2 separate regions of the Homo sapiens genome follow, and region 2 is reported to be linked to region 1. The links are microRNA targets in miRTarBase. Many come from high-throughput screens and were not tested one by one. Region 1 holds a microRNA gene; the other region holds the end of a gene's coding sequence.
The links. The annotated mature microRNA hsa-miR-4755-5p reads UUUCCCUUCAGAGCCUGGCUUU and lies in region 1 at 2,069-2,090, opposite strand. An mRNA with a match to its seed (bases 2 to 7 or 8) in the 3' UTR can be bound and repressed. Matches are read on the target gene's strand: a 7mer-m8 pairs with bases 2 to 8, a 7mer-A1 pairs with bases 2 to 7 and ends in A, and an 8mer does both.

Region 2: miRTarBase lists CHCHD5 as a target of hsa-miR-4755-5p. The part of its 3' UTR that is shown has no 7-base or 8-base seed match.

Annotation. Positions count from the first base shown.
Region 1 is chr20:34,047,153-34,051,217 of GRCh38, reverse strand. MIR4755 (microRNA 4755) reads right to left here and starts at 2,099; the gene lies at 2,028-2,099. All of the region lies in intron 2 of RALY (RALY heterogeneous nuclear ribonucleoprotein), which reads right to left.
Region 2 is chr2:112,588,108-112,592,172 of GRCh38, reverse strand. It overlaps CHCHD5 (coiled-coil-helix-coiled-coil-helix domain containing 5), which reads right to left. Exons shown (of 4, transcript NM_032309.4): 4 at 3,133-3,307. The coding sequence ends at 3,284. Among named protein-coding and RNA genes, the nearest start is that of CHCHD5, 5.5 kb to the right of the region's middle.

The DNA of each region.
Region 1 (4,065 bases):
ATAGTAATCCTTACACTGCTTCCCTCACAGAGTTGCTCTAAGGTTCAAAAGCAGTAACACGTATGAAAGGGGTCTGTAATATATAAAGATGTGAATATTAGGGGCATTTGAAACATCATGAATAAACGTTGCTATTTCTGTTCATGAATTTTAAGCTGTTTGTTCTTGCAAGGTTCCCAGTCATCCCTTCCCAAATAGTGCTCCTTAAAATTTTCATCAGGATTTTGAATAAACAGGAAATATGTCCATTTCTCTCAGTATTGATTACTCTCTAGGCTGTCTGACAGACTCACACTAAATTGCCAATCTGCTTCTTAGGAGTCAGGAGTGAAAACATCAGAGTGGGTGAGAGCCTGGTGGGAGGCCTGTGAGCTGGGAGTTATCTGAATAGAGATAGCATACTGGCTGTGGGGCTAGACTCCTCACCATCATCTTGGAACATGGCTGGGAAATAGGTCCAAAGGGTCATTTGGACAGCAGATCCCAGCAGCCTCTGTATGAGATCTGTCCAGGAGACTAACCCCATTATATGGGATGGCAAGAGGGGGAGGTGACTGGAAATGAGAAATGGGACCAGGCTGACCAGCTACACTCTCAGATAGAGACTACCCTGACAAGGGCCTAGGCACAGACACAGAAGTAGTTGGGTGCAGGGCTCTCAATTCATCCTTCAACCCTGCCTGATATCACATCCTCATAACCCACATTGCTGTGGCCATCTGCTCCCTCTAGTTTCTGGCAGATTAAGGCCAAAAACAACAGCAAAGCATTTTTGGATCAAGGTCCTGCCTGGGGACAGAGAAGTAAATAATACAAGTCCCTGTTCTTAAGTAAGGCACTAGACCAAGACGGTTTGAGCCTAACTAGAGGCTCTCTTGCATAGCAAAGTCTCTGGCACATGGGTTATATTCAAGAATTGTTTGAACCGAACTGAATCAAAGGAACCTACATTCTGCAAGTTAAGAGCACCTGTTTGGTGTCAGGAGCCCAAGACTTCTAGATTCAATCCTGGTTCTGACATGTACAATTCAGGGACTCTGGACCTCAGTTTGCCCATCTGTAAAGTGCACTTTGTCTACCCCACAAGTTGCTATGAGTAGCCAATGAAGTAGTGGCTCAGTAAATGGCACTCTGTAAATGGCATGAGATGGAACAGCAGGAGCTGATGGGAGCACGGGCGCACATGATCTTAAAAGTTTAGAGTCCAGCCTGAAGAAGACCTGAAATAAGCTCCTTTCTTTCTCCCCAGTCAGCTTAGATCTGCTTTTCAAACACAGCAGACATTCTCTGCATTTCTGGTGACTGTGAAAAGGGGAAGGGGATAATTTGCCACTAAGTAGGGGATAGAAAGAAAGGTTGCCATCTTTATACTTTTCAAAATAAGAGCACGGGATTTGGATTTATAATCCTAACTTTTGTTAATCAAAAGCTGTGAAACTATGAACAAGCCTCAACCTCTCTCAGTTTCCTCATCTGTACATTGTGGGGAAATTTCCTAAGTCATAAGATTGCAGTTAAGGTTCAATGAATTAATGATGTCAAAAGTGTTTTGAAATCCACAAAATGCCAAACAAACGCCAATCATTACAAAGTTGTCTGTCTTCTCATCAGTTTACCAGCTACATAGGACAGTGGTTATTTACCATTTGACAGGTGAGATCATCAAAGCCCAGAGAAAGTGCTTAAAGTAACACACAGCTCAATTCTGACTTCTTACAGCAGAGGTAACTGTTCCTTTACTACAGGGGTTCTTAATTAGCCTGCTTGCCTCATTAAACTGACAGATCTCTGAGGGAGGGGACTACATACATCTTACACATTTTTGTACCCCAGTGCCCATCATGGCACACCTAAAAGATGTGAAGTGTTACTAGAATGATGACTAACATATTGGTAGCAGAAACATATCTAGAACTCAGGACTCCTAATCCCAGATCCAGGGTTCTTTACAACCATACAGTGGCCCAAACCTCATAGACTCGGCTTGCCTTAACATCTCATCTCTTCCTCAATTCTCCACTCTAGCAAGATTCAACTTTCCCTTCAGAGCCTGGCTTTCATAGATGCCAAAGCCAGGCTCTGAAGGGAAAGCTGAATCTGGCTTTCATAGATGCCAGTTCCTCAGCCATAACCTTCCTCATCTCTCCTTGCTGAGCTAATTCCTATCCATCTCTCAGACTTGGAGGCCTTTCTAATCTCTCCTAATACTGGGTCAGGTATTTACTTTCCTCCATGGCTGTTTTGTTTATCACAGAGTCCTGGCACACAGAATGTGTTAAAAGTATCTGTTGAAGGCTGAATGAATGAAACACTGGGTGTAGAAATCCAAAGGTGATGCAGAGAAAATTTTTTTTTTTTTTTTTTGAGACGGAGTCTCGCTGTCTCCCAGGCTAGAGTGCAGTGGTGCGATCTCGGCTCACTGCAAGCTCTGCCTCCAGGGTTCACGCCATTCTCCTGCCTCAGCTTCCCGAGTAGCTGGGACTACAGGCGCCCGCCACCACGCCCGGCTAATTTTTTGTATTTTTAGTGGAGATGGAGTTTCACCGTGTTAGCCAGGATGGTCTTGATCTCCTGACCTCGTGATCCACCTGCCTCAGCCTCCCAAAGTGCTGGGATTACAGGCGTGAGCCACCACGCCCGGCCGCAGAGAAAATATTCTTGACCTGGAAGTCATGCAGCCTGACTGATTCTAATTCTAACTCCACTACTAATGCGTTTCGTGATCTTGAGCAAGTCCCAGTTCTTCTTTGGACCATCTATAAATGAGTTACACAGTATGATCTCAGAAGGTCCCTCCATTGTTAAAAGCATATGAGACTTAGACTCATGTGAAGTCCTAGGGATGAGGAGATTCCAAAGCCAGCTATATGCTCCATAGCATAGGAGACCCAACACTCTCATCCCCCCAGGAGCACGAGAGACACACGACTCTGCTGTCAGGAGCCTCCCAGCCCATTGGTTTACTTAATTCCTCTTGATGAAGTGCCAAGAATAAATCGTAGGTGAGCAGCAGAGCATTTTAACGAGTCCAGAGCCTAATGAATCTTTTCCTTCCTGTGTCAATTAGAATTTCAAAGCTAGGATCCCCAAGGACCAATTTATTGGGAACAGAGAGAAGAAGCCTTTTGTTCATCAGCAGCTGCCTGAGCTACCTGCTCTGCTCCTGTATCTCTGCTGTGTAACAATCCTGCTTACTCAGATATAACATCTGGCACAATAAAGCCTGGCCTGGAGGCTCCTTCTTGCCCAACATTTCTGGGGTCTGAACTTGAGGAAGGAAACAAGGGTCCAGGGTATTTCTGAGGGCAAAGGTGGGGTTGGGGGTTGGTCAGGGAATCAGAGCAGTGCTGACGTTGCTGCTATCTCCTAGGGATACTGGCCTTCAAAGAGCTAACAGCCACAGATCACCAGGCTACTCACCCAACTAAGTATCTGGTACTGTGTGGCACCTATTTACCTGTTATTTTAAATCCTCACAACCTCAAAAGCAGATATCAACCACATCATTTTAGAGAAAAGGAAAAAGAGGATCTGAGAGCTAAAGGATCAGCCTAAGGAACACAATTATTACAGTAAATGGCAGAGAAGGATTTGAACTCAGGTCTGTGCGACTCCGAAGACTAAAGCTCTATCAAACCAATACAACTCTGCCAGGAGCTGATGTCTTGAATGGCAGAGATGGCCCATGGTCAGCCATAGACACATTAGGCATTTGCCACCAACACACTGTCTTTTGCCCGGGCACATGCAAGAGTGGCTGCGCATCACCAGTCCTTCCATTCAATGGAGCTGGCAATCCTCCATCCCTAGAAGATAATCCAAGCAGAGTCACCATCAACACTGCCCCCTGCTCCTACCCCAGAAACCTTTTATTTGTGAGGAATTTCCAATTCTTGATCTAATGGCTCCCATGCACCCAGTTCTCCACCTCCCATACTGTCCGCTCTAAGTCACACAGGGCCAGCCCAGGTACTACTGCTCTGTATTCAACAAAGACACATTTTCCAAGGTCAGCAGATTAGCAAGTCAGGTTTCCAAATGTAACTAGTGTTGAATTTTAGGGCT
Region 2 (4,065 bases), not on the chromosome of region 1:
TTGTTGCAGTAATTTAAATATAGGCACAATTTTTTTGCAGCCAAATGCTATCAAGAAGTAAAGTCTCCCCATCTCTTTAATCTCAGCTGGGCTCATGACTGCTTTGACCAATAGAATGTGGTAAAAGTGATGTCTGAAGTTTCCATTTTCACTCTCTTGGACCCCTGAGACCATCATATAAAGAAGCTAGTCTAGCCTATTGTAAGACAGGACACATAGAGATGTTCTAAAGTGTAGTCTGGATCTCCATTTTGTCTGTTTTAATCACACTTCTTTTAGTTGCATGGCATAGAACCCCACTCAAGCTTACTCAAGCAAGTGGAGTGGGCTGAAAACATCCACCACAGCCCATGGAAACTAGAGATGGAAACAAAAAGCCACCAGGATCCAGACCCTTTCAGGGACAGGAACTTGCAGGGAGCCAAAGGCCTGTGGGATGTGACCAACTCAGCATTCCACTGGGGCTATATGATCAAACAGCAAACTGTTTACCATTAATACAGAATGTGGACAAACTCACTTCTGTGCCTGCCCCAGAAGGTTTGATGAGGGCAGTCGCTTCCTGGCGCCGAGCTCCTTGAGGTTATCTACTGCGACATCTAGGGAATGCAGTCTTGCAAGCCTACTCTGGACAAGCTGACCTCTTCTTCTACCTGCCTTCTCGCTATCTCTTTTGCCTAATAAATACAGAAAGCTGTGTAAAGCTCAGGGCCCTTGTCCACTAGAGGCAAGGTGCCCCCTGACCCCTTCTTCCAAATATACTCTTTTGTCTCTTGTCTTTTATTCCTGCATTCGCCACCCTTTCTTCAGTCCACCAGGGATTGTGGCAGGTTACAGGAACTGATCACAATTCTCTCTCCACTACCTGGGTTTCCTCCTAGCTCAGACAAATGGTATAAAATCTTGCAACCCTGAACTTACAGGATTTCTACCCGGCTCCTAAACCAATGAACAACTTCCTTTGTCTTGGAGATTAATCCCTAGGAGAGACTCCCATAGGCCAGGCTCATTCTTCCAAGCCGAGCATAATCCTTGGGTATCAAATGGCCAGTTACTCCAATTTCCAGAGGTTTGGGATCACCTCCAGGGAGGAGGGCCTCGTCTGAATGGTGAATGTGGGTGCAGGCCATGGGCATGCTCAGCTCAGCACTCTGGGGTCTCCTCCTCTATTGCATACACGCCTGTCTGCTTTCTATTCTTTAGGACCAGTCCCTACTGGGGAGCCTGTATCAAACAGCAGGAGCCTGTATTCCTGAGAAGCATGAAGAAGCCACAGCAGCCACTGTTGGTACCTGCCCAGATCCACTCAGCATCTCTTCCGCAGGTTTAAGGCTGCTCACTTGATCCCATTATACTCTGCTTACGGCCCTCTTCTGATGGCAGAAGTGAACTTGGCCTATAAAGGGCAGGCCAGAAGTACCAGTCAATGCCCATGAAAATACCCCTTAATGACAGATGGGAAGTTGGTAGATAACACAATTCCCTTGCTCCTTGATAGGGTAACTGGGTTATGTTCTATAAAGTCCCCCACAGGTCCCCAGTGGGACTGAGTCCCAGTTGCCCAGAGTGGTAACTCGCTTGATAATGCACCTTTTATTGGCTGCCTTCCTCTCTATTGTCTCCCTTCTCCATTCCTCTATCAGTGTTTCTGGAATCAAATTCAAATTACCATCTGCACTCAAATTCTGAGTTGGCTTCTGGAAAACTGGAAACTAAGAACAGAAATCCAGTGCATAGACCAGAAGCGGTGGCTCACACCTATAATCCCAGCACTTTGGGAGGCTGAGGTGGGCAGATCACCTGAGGTCAGGAGTTACAGACCAGCCTGACCAACATGGTGAAACCCCGTCTCTACTAGAAATACAAAAATTAGCCGGGCATGGCGGCCGGTGCCTGTAATCCCAGCACTTCGGGAGGCTGAGGCGGGCAGATCACCTGAGGTCAGGAGTTTGAGACCAGCCTGACCAACATGGTGAAACCCCATCTCTACTAGAAATACAAAAATTAGCCAGGCATGGTGGCGGATATCTGTAATCCCAGCTACTCAGGAGGCTGAGGCAGGAGAATTGCTTGAACTCAGGAGGCAGAGGTTGCAGTGAGCCGAGATCACGCCATTGCACTCCAGCCTGGGCAACAAGAGTGAAACTCCGTCTTGAAAAAAAAAAAAAAAAAAGAAGAAAGAAAGAAAAGAAATCCAGTACATGGCCTTCTAAGCCATACATCCTTCCATGTGGTTGTTTTCAATAATAAAGCCAGTATTTTCATCTCCATTGCCTAATGCCTCTGTTGCCCAGTTGATTCTGAATTCAGCAGGGAAAGACGCATATTATTTATCACCCCCCAAGCCTCCAGAAAACTGAAAACAGATTTGGAGAATGCAGCCAGGCACTGTGTCAAGTGCTTACGGTAGTGCTAGCTACTGTGGAGGCTGAGGCAGAGGATCACTGGAGCCCAGGAGTTCGAGGCTGCAGTAAGCTATTATCGCACCACTGTACTCCAGCCTGGGCAACAGAGCAAGACGTTGTCTTTAAAATATATATATAGGCTGCGCGTGGTGGCTCACGCCTGTAATCCCAGCAATTTGGGAGGCCGAGGTGGGCAGATCACGAGGTCAGGAGATCGAGACCATCCTGGCTAACACGGTGAAACCCTGTCTCTACTAAAAAAAAAAAAAAAAAAAATTAGCCAGGCGAGGTGGCGGGCGCCTGTAGTCCCAGCTACTAGGGAGGCTGAGGCAGGAGAATGGCACGAACCCCGGGGGGCGGAGCCTACAGTGAGCCGAGATCGTGCCACTGCACTCCAACCTGGGCGACAGCGAGACTCTGTCTCAAAAAAAAATAAAAATAAAAATAAAATAAAAAATATATATATTAAAAAAAAATAACAATTTGGGGAATGCTAGAGTGGAAGGGATTGAGGGTCTTTACCCCAGGCACATGCAGCAGAAGTCAGGAAATGGCTGTGTGGCAGAGTTCACAAGGGAGGCAGGGTAGTCTCAACCCTGGGGCACAGCTGCAGAGTCCTGTTCTTCCCAGGCACTTCCTTGGCACACCCGGTGAAGCTGGGGAACAGATGACTCTGCCCAGCCAGCTCTCCTAGGACCCTCTCAGGTACGGATGGCAGGAATCAAAGCCCAGTATACAGAGTCTTTATTTATTGGAAGTCCTGATATCCAGGAAAGCCGGGCCCATGTCCAGGGCTCAGGACTCCATCTGGCCACTCTGCAGGGGAGGGGCGTGGGGGCAGTCATTCATGTCCAGTTTTCCTGCCGTCAGAGGAGTCCTCAGGAGGCAGGAAGTGGCTGTGCCTGTGGAGAAAGTACATCAACATCTAGTAGCACCTCCTCTGTGCCCAGCCTGGGGAGCCTATGTAGACACCACAGAGGGAGACCCTGCAGAGCCCACAGTCTGGAGGGAGAAGGGTGTTGGGCAATGACCTTGGCCCTGAGCCATGTGAAAAAGTCAGCTGTGGTGAAGTGTCATGGGAGGCAGGGAACGCGCCATTCTGCTATATTTACTGAGCACCTGCCGTGTACCCAGCAGGCAAAACTCTCTGACTCAAGCAGGGAGAGACGGACAATAAATATGTCAACATCCAAGAAATTCGATGAAGAAAATTTAATCAGGGTAAAGAGCAGAGGTGTGTGCGGAATGGGAGGGACATGTACCACTTTGATTGTCAGCCACAAAAACACAGGACATTCTGTAAAGTCTGTATGCCATGCTGCAGGAGATGAGAATGTTTGTGTTCGCTATTGTGTAGACCAGACAACAAATCTCACTGCCCCTAGCTAGGAAGGAAAAACTGTAACTGGGATGCCATCCCCAGGAAGGAGGGGATGATGAGGAGATGTGACCTAATTCCCTTTTTTTTTTTTTTTTGGAAGACAGAGTCTCGCTCTATCGCCCAGGCTAGAGTGCAATGGTGCAATCTTGGCTCACTGCAACCTCTGCCTCCTGGGTTCAAGCAATTCTCCTGCCTCAGCCTCCCAAGTAGCTGGGATTACAGGTACCTGCCACCACACCTGGCTAATATTTGTATTTTTAGTAGAGATGGGGTTTCACC